Linked DNA regions of Homo sapiens: all the other regions are linked to region 3. The links come from fine-mapping of genetic effects on gene expression. A gene starts in region 3. Each other region holds a variant in brackets. All regions are shown on one strand. Distances are from middle to middle.

Region 1 (4,000 bases), 22 kb after region 3:
CCCTGTGAAGAGGTGCCTTCTGCCATGATTGTAAGTTTCTTGGGGCCTCCCCAGCCGTGTGGAACTGTGAGTCAATTAAACTTCTTTTCTTTATAAATTACCCAGTCTCTGGTATTTCTTCATAGCAGCGTGAGAATGGACTAACACACCTATAGTGGTTCAACTTAGATTTTTTGACTTTAGAGTGGGTTTTTCATGGTTACTTAAATGGATTTCTGACTTCAGATATTTTAGATTTACAGTGGACTTATTGGGACATAACCTCCTAGTAAATTAAGAACTATCTGTGTATATATGTACACACATATGCAAACAGTTGAGGCTCGTTATTTGTGGATTCCATATTTGCGAATGTACCTACTCACCAAAATTATTTGTAAGCCCAGATCAGTAGTACTTGTTGTACAGGTCATTCACAAACATGCACTGAGTAGTGGAAAGACTTGAGTCTCCTGATACAACACATTCTTAGCTGAGGTTGTACAAGGGAATGCTTGCCTTCTTTTTTCAGCACTCATACTGTAAGCAAGTATCTTTTTTGCAGTCTGTTTATTGCCATGCATTTTTTTGCTTTTGTTGGTCATTTTGCTATTTAAACTAGCTCCCAAGCATAATGCTAAAGTGTTCTTTCATGTTGCTAAGTGCGAGAAGGTTATAATGTGCTTTACAGAGAAAGCGCATGTTACATACGCTGTTGGCTATGAGTTCAGTGTTAATGAGTTAGCAGTCTGTATTAAATAAGGTGTCTTTAAACAGAAACACACATAAAATGAATTTATGTATTGATTGGTTCATGAAAACCTTGTGATTACAGGAACCTAACCCTGTATTTCCCCTAGGAGCAATGGTTGTGTATTTGCTAATTCAGTTTTCACAGTGACTTTATAGAACATTACTACCACAGATAGCAAAAATTGATAGTACATATATGAATGAATGGGTTATAATATGTCTGATTCCCTCATTCAGTAAAATAAAATTCTTAACATACTCACTGATTATTTTAAAAACACGATAGTTTTGTGAGTTGTATAATATACGAAGTTATTTTGAAGTGAAACTATATTTGGGGTGCAGTTAAATGTGTTGATTAATGCTAATGTGTCAAAGTTTGTAGTTTAAAAAAACCCAAATTTATTGAATTAACCTTTTTTTTTTTTTTTTTTTTTTTGAGACAGAGTCTCACTCTGTCACCCAGGCTGGAGTGCAGTGGCGTGATCACAGCTCACTGCAACCTCCGCCTCCCGGGTTCAAGCGATTCTCCTGCCTCATCCTCTCAAGTAGCTGGGACTACAGGTGCACGCCACCACGCCCGGCTAATTTTTGTATTTTTAGTAGAGATGGGGTTTCACCATGTTGGCCAGGCTGGTCTCAAACTCCTGACCTCAAGTGATCCACCCGCCTCAGCTTCCCAAAGTGGTGAGATTACAGGCGTAAGGCACCACGCATGGCGATGTAACCATTTTTAAGTGTATAGTTCAGCAGTGTTAAGTACATTCACATTGTGCAACGTCTGTGGTTTTACTTAATAGGATTATGGATTTAAATAGTAGCTTGTTACTGAATTTAATAAAAGTATTTGGAATTATTAATTGCCCTTTAACTTATTTAAGATTTGTAATGCAGTTTAGGTTCTGTATTTTTGATAATTGTGTAATAGGGTGTCTTATCTAATAAATTATGTATTTGAGCTTGCTTTGCACTCACATCTTCCCCACTTCTTTTTTAGTGCTTTTTTAGGACCAAAGGATATATTTCCTTACTCAGAAAATAAGGAAAAGTATGGCAAACCAAATAAAAGAAAAGGTTTTAATGAAGGTTTATGGGAGATAGATAACAATCCAAAAGTGAAATTTTCAAGTCAACAGGTAAGTCATATTACATAAAATTTGATATTACTTATTTAATCCTGGGGAATAATCACTATCCTAGCTGTAGGAAAGTAAATACTAAAAGCCTTGGGAATTTCATACTAGTTTGTTGTGTTCTTATTTGTGAGGTTGAACCTTGGGCATTTTATATCAAAATGAATTGACAAAATCATTATTTTATGTAGTTAAACAGATCTCAAGAAACTGGGAACTATTCAGTTATTTAACTCCTGATAGAGGGTTTAATACGTCATTGAATATAAAGCTGTATGTACTGTTCTAAATTTAGGTTTTGCGACTTACATGGTGTATGCCTAAGTTTTCTTATTCTCTTTAATTAATTAATTAAATTTCTTTTTTTTTTTTTTTTTTTTGAGGTGTAGTTTCGCTCTTGTTGCCCAGGCTGGAGTGCAATGGTGC[A/C]ATCTTGGCTCACTGCAACTTATGCCTCCCGGGTTCAAGTGATTGTCCTGCCTCAGCCTCCCAAGTAGCTGGGTTACAGGTGCCCGCCACCACGCCTGGCTAACTTTTTGTATTTTTACTAGAGACAGGGTTTTGTCATGTTGGCCAGACTGATCTCAAACTCCTGACTTCAGGTGATCCACCCACCTCAGCCTCCCAAAATGCTGGGATTACAGATGAGAGCCATTGCGCGCAGCCTTTAATTTCTAAATCCATAGAATTGTATTGGAATATGAACCTCATGAGTTAAATTGGTATGTGACAAATGTACTTACAGCACTATGCAAATTATATTTATTGGTGTCAGCAGCCACCTTATACCTTCTTTTCTGTGGTTTTTCCCATGGGTCCAGAGCTTTTATTAATTTATATGTTATAGTAAATTTTCATGGAGTGGTTTGCCTTTATCCAATTTGTATTGTTTTTATCCTACAGAAAACACTGGTTCTCTTACTTCTCCTTTGTGTTGGTATTGATGTGATTTAGAAAAAATTTATTTTTTTTGAGAGGAGTCTCGCTCTGTCGCCCAGGCTGGGGTGCATTGGCTCTATCTTGGCTCACTGTAAGCTCCGCCTCCCGGGTTCACACCATTCTCCTGCCTCAGCCTTCCGAGTAGCTGGGACTACAGGTGCCCGCCACCACACCCGGCTAATTTTTTGTATTTTTAGTAGAGACGGGGTTTCACCGTGTTAGCCAGGATGGTCTCGATCTCCTGACCTTGTGATCCGCCCGCCTCGGCCCCCCAGAGTGTTGGGATTACAGGCCTGAGCCACTGTGTCCAGCCTAATTTTTTGTATTTTTAGTAGAGACGGGGTTTCACCTTGTTAGCCAGGATGGTCTCAATCTTCTGACCTTGTGATCTGCCCACCTCGGCTTCCCAAAGTGCTGGGATTATAGGCTTAGAAAAATTTTTTATATTGTCGATTGCACTCTTGAATTGTTGCATATATTCCCAAATGAATGTTCCAGAACTCTTACGATTTAAAATAAACAGATGGCTTTATAATAGGATCAGAGGGCTATGAGAGGTCTTTATGAAGATAATTGGGACAGTTTCTCTTTCATCAATAAACGTCCTCTGTTTAAGACCTGAGGTCCAAAAACTAGGAAGAGCACGAGTAAATCTAAAGAAGCGAGGTAGCAACAAAGTGGAAATTCTGCAGCTTTTTACTCTTTTTTTTGTTGTTGTTGTTGAGATGGAGTCTCACTCTGTCACCCCGGCTGGAGTGCAGTGGCGTGATCTCGGCTCACTGAAGCCTCTGCCCCCCAGGTCAAGCAATTCTCCTGCCTCAGCCTCCTGAGTAGCTGGGATTACGTGTGCGCTTTGCCACCGTGCCTGGGTAATTTTTGTATTTTTAGTAGAGATGGGGTTTCACCATCTTGGCCAGGCCAGTCTTGAACTCCTGACCTCGTGATCCACCCACCTCAGCCTCCCAAAGTGCTGGGATTACAGGCATAAGTCACTGTGCCCGGCCTAGCTTTTTACTTTTAAACCGATAAATTTTATTTCTTCACATGTGCCATGCTTTACCTTGGAGAACTTTTTAGATACTGTTCTATCTGGAACATATAAATCTTTCATTGCTGCTCCAAGGCCACATTAAATGATTAGTGACTTTATTACTTCCCAGTACTTACTTGTTAATGGATTCATCGAACCATATCATAAT
Region 2 (4,000 bases), 190 kb before region 3:
AATACTATCCAGCCATAAAAAAGAATGAAACCCTGTCATTTGTAGCAACGTAAATAAAACTGGAGGTCATTATGTTAAGTTAAATAAGCCAGGCACTGAAAGACAAATATCCTATGTTCCTTTTTTTTTTTTTTTTTTTGAGACGGGGTCTTGCTCTGTTGCCCAGGCTGGAGTGCAGTGGCACGATCTCAGCTCACTGCAAGCTCCGCCTCCCAGGTTCATGCCATTCTCCTGCCTCAGCCTCCCGAGTAGCTGGGACTACAGGCACCCGCCACCACGCCTGGCTAATTTTTTGTATTTTTAGTAGAGACGGTGTTTCACCGTGTTAGCCAGGATGGTCTCAATCTCCTGACCTCGTGATCCACCCCCCTCGGCCTCCCAAAGTGCTGGGATTACAGGCGTGAGCCACCGCGCCTGGCCCTTATGTTCTTACTCACACATGAGAGCTAAAAAAGCAGATCTCACAGAGGTAGAGAGTAGAATGGTGGTTACTAGTGGCAGTGTGGAGGATGGTATTGAAGAGAGGTAGATTAATGGGTATAAACATATAGTTAGAAGAAATAAGTTCTAGAGTTCAATAGCACAGTATTGAACTCTACAGTTAACAACAATACGTTTTATATTTCAAAATAGCCAGAAGATTTGAAATGTTCCCAATAGAAAGAAATGCTAAATGTTCAAGGTGACTGGTATCTTAAATACCCTGATTTGATGATTACACATATTTCATGCATGTATCAAAATATCACATGCACCCCATAAATGTGTATGAAAGTATGTAAAATTATTCTGTATCCATTTTTTAGGTAACAAAAAAGAAATTGCCACAGCTAACCCAACCTTCAGCCACCACCACCCTGATGAGTCAGCAGCCATCAACATCAAGGCAAGACTCTCCACCAGCAAAAAGGTTATGACTCACTGAAGGCTCAGATGATCATCAGCATTTTTTGGCAATAATGTATTTTTTAATTAAGGTATGTGGATTTTTTGACATAATGCTCTCACAACTTAATGGACTACACTATAGTATAAACATAACATTCAAACATACTGGGAAGCCGAAAAACTCGTGACTCACTTTTTTGCTTATGTAACAAAAACCCAATCTGAGCAGAAACAGAGTCCATTATAAAGGCACAGAGCTGTTTTATGCAAGCCAATAGGAGGAATGAAACCAGATCCCAAGGAGTTATGTAAATCAATCAGGATGTAAATTAAATACTCAGAAGAGGTCATCAGCAAGATAGTTTAATGACGAGACTACAGAAATGTGTACAGGTTAACAGATCCCAAAAGGTATGATGAGGCACCAAAAGCAAGCAAGAGTAGAAAACTAATATTATGTCTTAGCTTAAAAGGTCAAGTGGAGAGAATGTCACCATAGTCTAACAAGAGCCACAGCCATGAAAGAGGGCCCACCCAACAGGCACTGTGGCTGCTGAAAAATGAAGCCACTGCCAAAAATGCAGTGGAGCAGAGGAAGCAGAGGAAATAAACACTTCGACTGCTTTATTCTGTCATTCCCTTAATCTCCTGTGGGTGCACCTACTGTCCAAACCTAACCAGAAGCCAGAA[G/A]GTAAAGGAGCCCAGATCCACAGAAGGCAGCCTCCCAAGGCACACAGCAAAACAGAACAGAGGAGAATGGATCAGCAAGGGGAGAAGGGTGTAAAGGAGAGAAAAATCAGCACAAAATGGAAACATGTTACCACTCTGTAACAATCCAAAAATCACTAATTCAGTGCACAGTCCTTTCGCAGGAACACATTCCCTGGAATACACAAAGTATGCATCTATACAGAAAATTAGGAAGATAAAGATAAAAAAGGATGGTTAATAAAAGAATAAAAATTAAAATTTTAATAGAAAATTCTGTAGGCTTAGTAATAACTTCTGAGTTGCTTTGTTACCAACTATTTTACTTTAAAACTCAAACGAGACATGACCACATTATTCTTAGCTTTTCTAATTCAACTCTGAAGAAATATTTAAAATAATATTGAGGCATATGCTATACTGCGACAATATTTAACAATTTTTAAAGATCCTAACACCATTAAACACCACTGATACATCTCAATAATAAAAAAGTACCAGTGCAAAGGAAAATTTTCTCCTCCAAAGCTGTAACAAATATAATTGAAACTGGATACCTGCACCTACTTTTATGACACTTTTATATCTTTTGATTTGTCCATGATAACAAATTATGATTATGATACAGTAATGCTTTTGGGAAAAGTTTACATAAAAACAAAGATAGTTACACATTAATTTCATAAAAGCTAAAAACACAGAGACTTAAAACATAGACAATAGCAAAGCACACTACATTTCTAATAGCTTACCAACTGAGAAATCTACAGATCCACAAGGCAAAATATGAACCTTGATGAGGTCCTTCCAAGTTTTCAAGGACAAAAACTTCCTGAACTTAAGAGCTCTCTAAAGAACTTATTTGCCAAATTGCTGTTAGATTCCTTTTAAAAATGTTTTCTTAAATTTCTCAATTTTTAAGAGTGAGAAATTTAATTTTATGTGCCTTTTGAAGAATAGAATTGTGTTAGAAGACCACCAAATAATTCAGGGCTGAAAGCAGGGCAAAAGAAAACTGAGGTAGAAAAGTATTTATGTCAAAGCTACTATAGCACACATAATAACATAAACACAAAACACTAAGAAAGTAGAAATAGTGAACAGAATTCATTAGCCAGCCATTGCTTTTGCTAGTTCTCAAAATATGTCTACCTAATTAATATATAATTTTATAGCTCTTTATCATATGAAGTGGGCTAATAACTACAACTAAAATATTCTACCTAAGCATTCTTATCTGGACAGTATATGTATATGGTAGTAGGAAATGAAAACCAGCTTAGAAAACCGGCTTGGAAAGTATAGAACATGCGCTATGCTACAGCCTGTGTCCTACATAACCTTTTAAATGCATGACCTTTAAGTTGCTGAAGGTTGCCTCAGAATTTGGCTCAGTTTGATCGAAACATCTGTTCCCCTTGCAGGTATACTGTAAGGACTTTTTTCTCAGTTGGATTCAGAACACAGCAAGTGAGCCCTTGTCTGTCCAATCACACACACCCCAACACTTGTAAATCAAGTTCTGGGAGGACAACAGCAGGTCCATATTCCGTCACCCTTTCTCAGCCAGCTAGGCCAACTGACTGCTGTGAGAACTGCTCTTATCATGTCATCAAATCAAAACATGTTGAGATGAGGGACTACAAGAGGCATCTGCAGAATTCCCAAAATGTAGTGACTTTGGAACATTGACAGATGCATCTGTCATTTTATACCTTCAACTAACCTGATGTCCACTGGCCCGACACAGTAAAGCTGTCCAAGATCGATTCCAATTCTTTCACGTTATTTTCACATGTCTCTACTAGGAAGGCCTGGTGCTTCTTAGCCTTTTAATTAAGAAAAAAATTACACATAAGGTCACGTATTATAAGAGCTGCATATTTTTAGTGTGAACATATATAACACAAGTATAAACAAGATAATGATTCCATTCAAATATATTATTAATAAACCATCTTTCTCTCTTAATCATACCTTTTACTTGGCTTAATGTAACACTGTACAAGGTCTTATTAACAATTTACTGAGGAGTTAGTGCCTGGCACTATTCTAAGTGTTTTATATATAGTAATTCATTTTATCCTCACAATAACCCTATGATGGAAAGGCTATTATTATCCCAATTTTAGAGACAAGAAAACTGAGACAGAGGAATTATGGAACACTTAAAAAATCATGACTACAGTCATATGGCAAGTTGCCAGATGGCAGTCAAAAGTGAAGACAGTTAAGACCAATTTGAAGTTACTGCAGCAGTCAAGTGACAGTACTTTGGTCTAGGGTATTGACAGTGAAAGGGGAAGAAGGGGTAGGGAATGGAAGCACTGGACAGAGACTAAGATGGTAGAATGGCCAGACTTTAGTAAAACTGCATTGGGTTAGACCACACTGATTGGACTGG
Region 3 (4,408 bases):
ATTTTTGGGTTGAGTTTTTTAGGACCAGAAGGAGTTAAACAGAATGGTCTCGTGCTGGGGACAAGCTGGGGAATGGCATGGTGTGGAGGGAGGTTGTTAGGAAATTTGAAGCTGGGAATACTTTCAAGCCCAAAGGTGGAAGGTGGAAGAGTAAGTACTGGGCTGCTTTTCCTTCCAGCATCTTTTCTAATTATAAGCCACTCCTCCTTCAGCCTTGCTGCCTCCCTGCCCCACCTAGAGGCGATGTGGGATCACAAAAATGGCATGGGCAAGTAGCCAGAGGGGCTAGAATGTTGCCTCAGCCCCTGGACTAGATGTGTGATCTTGGGCAAGCTAGCTGCTTACCTTCTGTGAGCTTATTTTCTCATCTGTGAAATGGGGATAGTGGCACTTGGGTTAAATGAGATAATGTAGGCCAAGTTCCTGCCTCAACTCATTTGGATTTTCCTGCCCCCTCCCCTTGCTTCAGTTGTTTTGGAAATTACACTCTTTCTCCTTATAACTTTCCCATTGCTCCTCTGATCTCCATTTTGGTATACTTTTTCAAGTATCCCCACTAAGAAGGCTGACTATGGGAGAGGGCTGCACCAAGCATAGCTGGAAAAGAGCACAGAAAAGCTCTCCCAAGTGGCTAGGATGTGCCCAGCTTTCCTTCCCCGTTCCCTGCCCTCCCCTCCCCTCCCCTCCCCCCCCCTTTCCTCGCAGATTCAGAACTGTTGCTCCCAGGGATCCTGGGCTTTTGTTCTCTGGAAGCTTAAACCACCACCTGTTTTGCCTTTATTGTTTAAAGGGTATCTCCTGTTGTTCACAAACTACCACAGGTTGAAGCGGACAAAACTTAAAGGCAGCAGGAGCTAAGTATGGTACTTCCTTTTTTTAAAACAACAAAAACAACAGAAAATACTAATAGTAAAACATCAATGCTTTTCCATTTTCCCTTTTTTATTTCTTTTCTGAGGTCCCCTCTAACACTAACTACCCCCTCTTTACCTGTTAATCCTACCATTAGTACTAATAAAAAGTTATCTTTAACGTTAATTATAACTTGTTATATATCTGTTTTTCTTAGTTTGAAGTTTTTACAGTCTGAGGTATCCTCTAAAGCAGTTTCTCAAACTTGAATATGCGTAAGAATCACCTAGGGATCCTGTTAAAACGCAGATTATGATTTAGAAGGCCTGGGGAAGGTCTGAGCTTTACCTGAGCTCCCAGGTAAAGCCCTTGCTGCTGGGCCTTGGACCACACTTGAAGTAGCAAGGCCTTACAGGGTTTAGAACAAATAAAGTGCATACACACAAAAAAATGATTGCTGGATGCTGCTTTGGTCTCTCTTACTCTGTATCTTGAGCTTTTCTTCAATACATCTTTTTCCACCTTTTCCTATGCATAATTTATAGCCAACACCTGACAATCATTCCTTTGTGTAATTACTTAGTTGTGCTCTTCCTTCCCTTTTCTTAGTCACCATTCTCACTGAGAAATGCGTCATTTCATGAGTACTCCAGTTACCCCCAGCCTCTTTCTACTAACATCTACCTTGAAACATCAAGAACTGGTTAAATAATCATTTTTACCCCCTTCTTGCTGAGCAACCTATAGTAGCTTCCTACTACACACATTAAATTCATATTCAGAATGAGAAGCTTCAAGACATTTCACCAACCCTTCCTTCTCCTCTGCCAATTTCTCTTTTTGCTCCACTTGGAACTCTCTGCATATTGCCCAGGTATACTTAGTTTCTCGAAACTCCTTACAGGACATTTTACTTTGGGACTGTCTTCTTTCATTCCTTTTTAAAGACATGCTGTATCGCTTTCAAAAAATTCTCAATTTTTACCAATTCAAAAAAAATTTCCTAATTCATTTCCAGTTGAGTCCCGTATTTAAAACAGTATTATCTAGGTGCTAATATATGTCTTATTATTCTTATTTTTATATGTCTTAACATTCTTTTTAAAAATATTTTCAGCCTCTCTAAAGGATCAAAAAATTAACCTTTAAAATCCCTTGAAGAGCATTTTAAGAGAGAAAATATTTGAGGTTTAGTAACACTTACACATTGTACCACCTACCAGCTCCTATTCTACTAGGGAAATAAAATTTAGATGCAGCTAAAATTTAGTTAGGGCCCAAACTCACATCCTATCTAAAAGGTTTCTGTTTTCCTGTCATTGTTTTCTACCCTTCGCATTTTGCATTCAGTAGGGTTGCATTTTTCTTAATAGTTCTTGGTGATGCAAATGCAAAAGAAATGAAATAGGGCTCTCTCATACTACAATTTCAAGGAAAAGGAGACTACGAGGCCCATTCAGCGAGGTGCAAGAGGCCTAGATGCAGCACACCCTGCAACCGCCGCATGCTCCAATTTCATCTTAGGGTTTTCGTACAGCTCCTCTTTTTTGGATGATGCAAACCGCGCAAAAGCAGCATTCAAACCTCCCCACCCTGGAAACGATACAAGAACATGAATCTTTACTGCCACTTTCTCCCTAACACGCAGCCAAGGGAGAGAGGCCCGGATACCCGCCCCCAAAACCGCGTCCACAACAATCATTTCCTCCCTCCCCGCCTTTTACATACAGTACACATACAAATACACACACGCAGAGAAGCCAGCAGGGGCGGGCCGGGCCCGACCACTCCGCAAACCGCAGGGGGAACTTGCGGCAGGCCGAGCTATTTTCGCCCAGTCCTTTCTTCTTCGCTTGCGTCTTCCTCTCCATCTGCATGCACCTGTTACATGAAAGCGAACTTGGGGACGTAGGGTTTCCAGAAAATCCGCTTCGGAGCCACACAGCTTCGCCGGGTGCTGCAACATCCCCCCTCTCTCGGTAAACAGTTGGTCGCGCCCCAGTGCTAGCGGGCGCCGAGCGGGAGCCGCGCGGGAGCAGCGCAGCTACGGCGGCGGCAGCGGCGGCGCGGTTGCGATTCCGAGCCGTTGAGACGCCTCTGCGGCAGCTGGTGGCGCAGGTGGCTTGCGTGGACGCGGGTAGAGGCGACCGGCCAGCAACCGCAGCGTCGGCGCCCGCGGCCCCGGCAGGTGAGCGGGCGACGGGGACTCGCCCCGCCCCCCCCTCGGTGGCGTCGCTCCTGGCTGTAGCGGGGAAGTGGACGCGGCCCGCCCGGGAGCCGAGGGGGCCGAGGCTGCAGCCGCTGGGCAGCAGGTTGCGGGGGAGGCCTTGCGTGGGCGGAAGGGGGCCGCTCGCTTCTCGGAATCCCTGCCTTTTTCTCTCCCATGCACCCCCTCCCTTTTGGGGCTTAAGCTCGGTGGAAAAAGCCCGGAGAAAGATGGGGCGGGCAGACGGGCGATTTCTGGCCGGGCAGCATCCCTGCTTCAGGTGGTGGCGTCTCTTCGGTGGCGGGGTGGAGGACCTGCTCCAGCGCGGAGGCAGCGCACTGGCGGGGGAGGAGCGGGAGGCGGCCGTCCCCTCGCTCTCCCACCCCCACCCGCCGGTTCCCCTCCCCCTCCCCTTGCGGCCCCTCCCTTCGGGGTTCTTCGCTTTAACCGCCCTCGGTGCTCTCCCTAGCAGGCGCGTCGGGACGCCCCGAGGCATCCTCCCCCGCCCGCGGGCCCGGTAGCTGGGCCCGCGTCCGCCGCCCGCATCCCCGCGCCGCCGCATCTCCTCGCCGCCTCCCGGGCTTCGGACCCCCGGTCTCGCCCCCGAAACATGACTCGCGATTTCAAACCTGGAGACCTCATCTTCGCCAAGATGAAAGGTTATCCCCATTGGCCAGCTCGAGTAAGTGATTTGTAGCCCTCGCGCTTAGCAGTGCTACCCTCCTCTCCAGAGGCCTGCTGCCCACCGTGTCTCTTTATTTTTTCTTCTGTCCTTTCTCTCCCTCGCTTTAGTCTCATTTGTAACCTGACCTTTCATTTTAGTTTTTTGCCCAATAATCTCCCGTGTAATTATGAAAATCCAGACGTTTCTACATACCTGTGTATTTCCCTATGGTTTATTGGCAGACTTGGACAGATTTTCTTCCTAGGAAATATTTAAATGCGTTGCTAGTTAATATTCCATTGTAGGTGAAATAATGAAGAGTGAATTTTTGTTTAAAAATTAGTGAAACATTGACATTTCCATAGTTTTGGATCAAGTACAAAATATCAATGGAATTTGTGCAGATTACACACAAACACTTGGATGTCAGAGAAGTGCGTATGTGATTAAATTGGATTTACAGGGTTTTAAAAAAAATACCTTGTACTTGATGAGGCCTTCTGGATTTGCTTGTTTAATACAGATTCAGGACTGGATATTCTTGAAAGTATTACAGTAGTTTAGTACCGAGGAAGGGCCAGAAAATTCATTTCTCCTTTTTTATTTGAGATGTTTATGACCTTGAAGAAGTTGTTTTACCTTTTTGTTTCCAATAGGCAAAAAGGAGGTGTGGACCAGATTCCTCA
Region 4 (4,000 bases), 29 kb after region 3:
TGGCTCACTGCAACCTCCACCTCCCGAATTCAAACAATTCTCTTGCCTCGGCCTCCCAAGTAGCTGGGATTACAGGCATGCACCACCATGCCCAGCTAATTTTTGTATTTTTTTGTTTTGTTTTTGTTTTTGTTTTGAGACGGATTCTCACACTGTTGCCCCAGCTGAAGTGCAGTGGCGCCATCTCGGCTCACTGCAACCTTCACCTCCCAGGTTCACGTGATTCTCCTGCCTCAGCCCCCCGATTAGCTGGGATTACGGGTGCACACCACCATGCACACCTAATTTTTTTGTATTTTTAGGAGAGATGAGGTTTTACCATGTTGGCCAGGCTGGTCTTGAACTCCTGGCCTCAAGTGATCCACCCACCTCGGCCTCCCAAAGTGCTGGTGTGAGCCACCACGCCCAGCTAATTTTTGTATTTTTAGTAGAGATGGGGTCTCACCATGTTGGCCAGGCTTATCTCGAACTCCTGACCTCAGGTGATCTGCCCATCTCAGCCTCCTGAAGCTCTGGGATTACAGGTGTGAGCCACCGGGCCTGGCCTATATATATATATTTTTTTTTTTGATAGACATGGGGTTTTGCTATGTTGCCTAGGCTGATCTCTAACTCCCAGCCTCGGTGATCCTCCCAAAGCACTAGGATTGCAGATGTGAGCCTCTGTACACAACTTGATGCCTCTTTTTTCTTTTTTTTTTTAAATATAAATTTGTTTTTTTTTTTTTTTGGATACAGAGTTTCATTCTGTCACCCAGACTGGAGTGCAGTGGCATGATCTTAGCTCACTGCAACCTCCACCTCCCGGGTTCAAGCGATTCTCCTGCCTCACTCAGCCTCCTGAGTAGCTGGGATTACAGACGTGCACCACCACGCCTGGCTAATTTTTGTATTTTTAGTAGAGATGGGGTTTCACCATGGTGGCCAGGCTGGTCTCAAACTCCTGGCCTCAAGTGATCTGCTCACCTCTGCCTCCCAAAGTGCTGGGATTACAGGCATCCGCCACCATACCCAGCTAATTTTTTGTATATTTAGTAAAGACAGGGTTTCACTATGTTGGTCAGCCAGGTCTTGAACTCCTCACCTTGTGATCCGCCTTCCTTAGCCTCCCAAAGAATGCGTCATTTTTTTAAAGCAGTGTGAACGATGGGGATTGGATTGGGGCAGTGAGACCAGTTCACTGTAAAATTCATTCAGAATTTTAGTACTAACTTTACTGGACTTGGCATGGATTTGAGTAGTCAGTAAAGAAGACAAGGTCTTTGTTTCCATTGAACTTACATTTTTTTTTAGACAAAAAATAAATATTTAAAATAAGAGGGTTTAAATGGGGAGTTAATGAGTTGGCAACAGACTAGGCTACAAAAGGCCTTTCTAAGGAGTTGGCATGAGACTGGAAGGACAAGGATCTTATAGATTTTTTAAGTGGTGTAGACGAGAGATGGGATTTAAGAGCACTTTAAGAGGTTAAGTTGATGGTTGATGAGAAGTGGATGGTAAAGGGGGCGGGGGAGGGAACTAGAATCTAAGGTGGCTCTAAGGTCTTTACTTGAATAAGCTAGTTATTGGGAGTGCAGAGGATGTTGGTTTGGAATCATAGGCATGAGTAAGGGGAAGGTGAAGCACCTGTGGGAACTGGAGTGAAGAGATATATATATTGTTCTGGCACCAAAGAGGGAGAAGATGTAAGTTACAGATGCAGTCTCTGGCATGAAGATAGGGTAATAGATGAGGTCAAAGGAGAACGGTTTATTGAGAGGATGCAGAAACCAGAATCCTGAAGGAATATAATGGAGAGGGGGAAAGGTTGCTCTGTGAAATTATGGCTGAGAATGAACTGTCAAGAGAAAATCTAAGAGGGTATCAAGCTAAACAAGGGAAGGG[G/A]GAATGTCCAGAATGAAGAAGTGGTCAGTAATGTCCTGATTTAGAGAGGGTACCAGTAAGATACTTGCCACATAGGCTGCTCTAGGATACTTTCAGGTGAACTCCATTTAGTTGAATGGTAAGGACAGAAACTAGATTAAGGGGTTAGAGAATAAATGTTAATGGTAAAGTTACACTGTGCTTTTTAAATCTTTGAAGGCAAGGAGAATGTGGCAACATAATAGGGATTTTCATAGCTAAGGGAAAGTGTTAAAATGACAAAAGACAGTAAATGCCTTAACACTTTTTCTCTGCAAAATTAGGAAAGATCAAAGATGTGGAGTCAGTATAAATTATTTTATGTAAATACATGTTGGATGAGAGAATGGAGGGGACATTTGAAGGAACTGACTTAACAAGGAGGAGATGGATGTTTCAGTCTCTTAACACTGAAGGGGAGGGATGGAGGAGGCTCTGAAAATTTCTTGGGACACTAGGAAATTAAGGGAATTCCTTTCTACAGCCCTTACTCCCTTCTGCCCCATCCACATCAAAGCAAGACTTTGGATGTGGTACAAGTCGGGAAGAATAGATTGAGTAAATTATGCAGCTGTTGGTGGGAGGAGGAGGCCTGATCAGATAGGGTAAAGTGACTTTGAGATCTCAACTGAGATTGCATAAAATGAATGCATGTTTGTACATTTTTTTTTTCCCAGCAGGCTTCAGCAGCTGGGAATAATAGAACAGAGAAGGTAGAATTGTATAGTAACCTCTCTTGAGGATTTGTGGGACAGATACAGCAAAACAAGGATGTGGAGGACTTATGAATACATTTGAATAGTAATCCCATGAGGTTTTTGTGTGTGTGTGAAGTGGTGTGTTTTTAGTTAAGATCAAGGAAGCTGGTAGAGCTAGAAAGGGGTAAAAAATGAAGAGAAAATGAGGGTTAGATGTCTCAGAGCAAGTAAAATATGGAAGAAATAAATCTGTAGTCAGTAGTTTAAGATATTAGCATTTAAGATGTTTAAATATTTAAGCATATCCTAAGAGTGGAAAAGTTTTAAATATATATGTTTCGTATAACTTCATTGGTCCTTTCTTTAGATAAAATATTTATTATTCTTTGATTTTATTTTCATGAGGAATGGTTCTGACTTGCATGATTTTGCCATAATAGTCATGAACACACGTGCATGGTAGGGCTGATCTCTTAGTATTAGTGTTAATATAGTTTTAATTATTATTGATGAACTTGTTACACTTATTGGTACCTCCTTAAAAACCATCTCTTTTACCTATAATTCTTTGTTTTTTTTGAGACGGAGTCTTGCTCTGTTGCCCAGGCTGGAGTGTGGTAGCAGGATGTCAGCTCACTGCAATCTCTGCCTCCTGGGTTCAAGTGATTCTCCTGCCTTAGCCTCTTGAGTGGCTGGGATTACAGGTGCCTGACTTATTTTTGTATTTTTAATAGAGATGGGGTTTCACCATGTTGGCCAGGCTGGTCTCGAACTCCTGACCTCGTGATCTGCTAGCCCCAGCCTCCCAAAGCGCTGAGTGGGAATTACAGGCATGGGCCACTGCACCCAACCCTACCTATAATTCTTATTCAGTGTTTTGATTTATTTCCAAAAGCAGAAAGTGTAAGTGGAGAGAGTCTTCTTTGCACCAAAGAATTGACCAGTTATAACTGAATTTTAGACAAATTATGCCCTCTTAACTCCTCAGTAGGAAAAGAGCTCTCAGTCTTGAGTTCTTAAGCTTTGTTACCTGGGGAGCTTTATAAAAACACAGAATCCTGGTTCCCTGACTCAGAGCTATTGAATCAGGATTGGGGCAGGGCAACTTTGTAAGTTCTTAAAATTCTAGAAATAAAACCTGAGCTAATAATGTTCAGGGAGGAATTTTCAGTGTTCTCTGAGAACAACTCAAGGGTTACCTTAGATGAGTTTTAATAATACTTTTAATATGCTTCATTATGTTTCAGTTATTTAAAGAAATGTTTAAAAAACTAATAAAGAAATGGATACATTCGTAGAAGTGGAATTGCCATATAAAGGTTTTTTGTTTTGTTTTGTTTTTTTGAGACAGTCTTGCTCTGTCGCCCAGGCTGGAATGCAGTGGCATGAATTTCAGTTCA

What was found. PIP is the estimated chance that this variant, and not a neighbour inherited with it, causes the effect.
Region 1: its variant is the best candidate, but not a certain one, in a credible set for the expression of PSIP1 in whole blood (TOPMed, PIP 0.54).
Region 2: its variant is the best candidate, but not a certain one, in a credible set for the expression of PSIP1 in whole blood (TOPMed, PIP 0.62).
Region 4: its variant is the best candidate, but not a certain one, in a credible set for the expression of PSIP1 in whole blood (INTERVAL, PIP 0.53).

Annotation. Positions count from the first base shown.
Region 1 is chr9:15,487,854-15,491,853 of GRCh38, reverse strand. PSIP1 (PC4 and SRSF1 interacting protein 1) reads left to right here. Exons shown (of 16, transcript NM_033222.5): 4 at 1,730-1,868. Among named protein-coding and RNA genes, the nearest start is that of PSIP1, 21 kb to the left of the region's middle. The variant A/C (reference allele first, on the strand shown) is at 2,292.
Region 2 is chr9:15,694,660-15,698,659 of GRCh38, reverse strand. It overlaps CCDC171 (coiled-coil domain containing 171), which reads right to left. Exons shown (of 26, transcript NM_173550.4): 11 at 3,323-3,425. Among named protein-coding and RNA genes, the nearest start is that of CCDC171, 140 kb to the right of the region's middle. The variant G/A (reference allele first, on the strand shown) is at 1,579.
Region 3 is chr9:15,509,449-15,513,856 of GRCh38, reverse strand. PSIP1 (PC4 and SRSF1 interacting protein 1) reads left to right here and starts at 2,887. Exons shown (of 16, transcript NM_033222.5): 1 at 2,887-3,040; 2 at 3,528-3,740. The coding sequence starts at 3,669. RefSeq lists enhancers at 597-1,215, 1,868-2,820, 2,821-3,774 and silencers at 2,902-2,981, 3,002-3,211, 3,222-3,281, 3,412-3,461, 3,562-3,761.
Region 4 is chr9:15,480,863-15,484,862 of GRCh38, reverse strand. All of the region lies in intron 6 of PSIP1 (PC4 and SRSF1 interacting protein 1), which reads left to right. Among named protein-coding and RNA genes, the nearest start is that of PSIP1, 28 kb to the left of the region's middle. The variant G/A (reference allele first, on the strand shown) is at 1,885.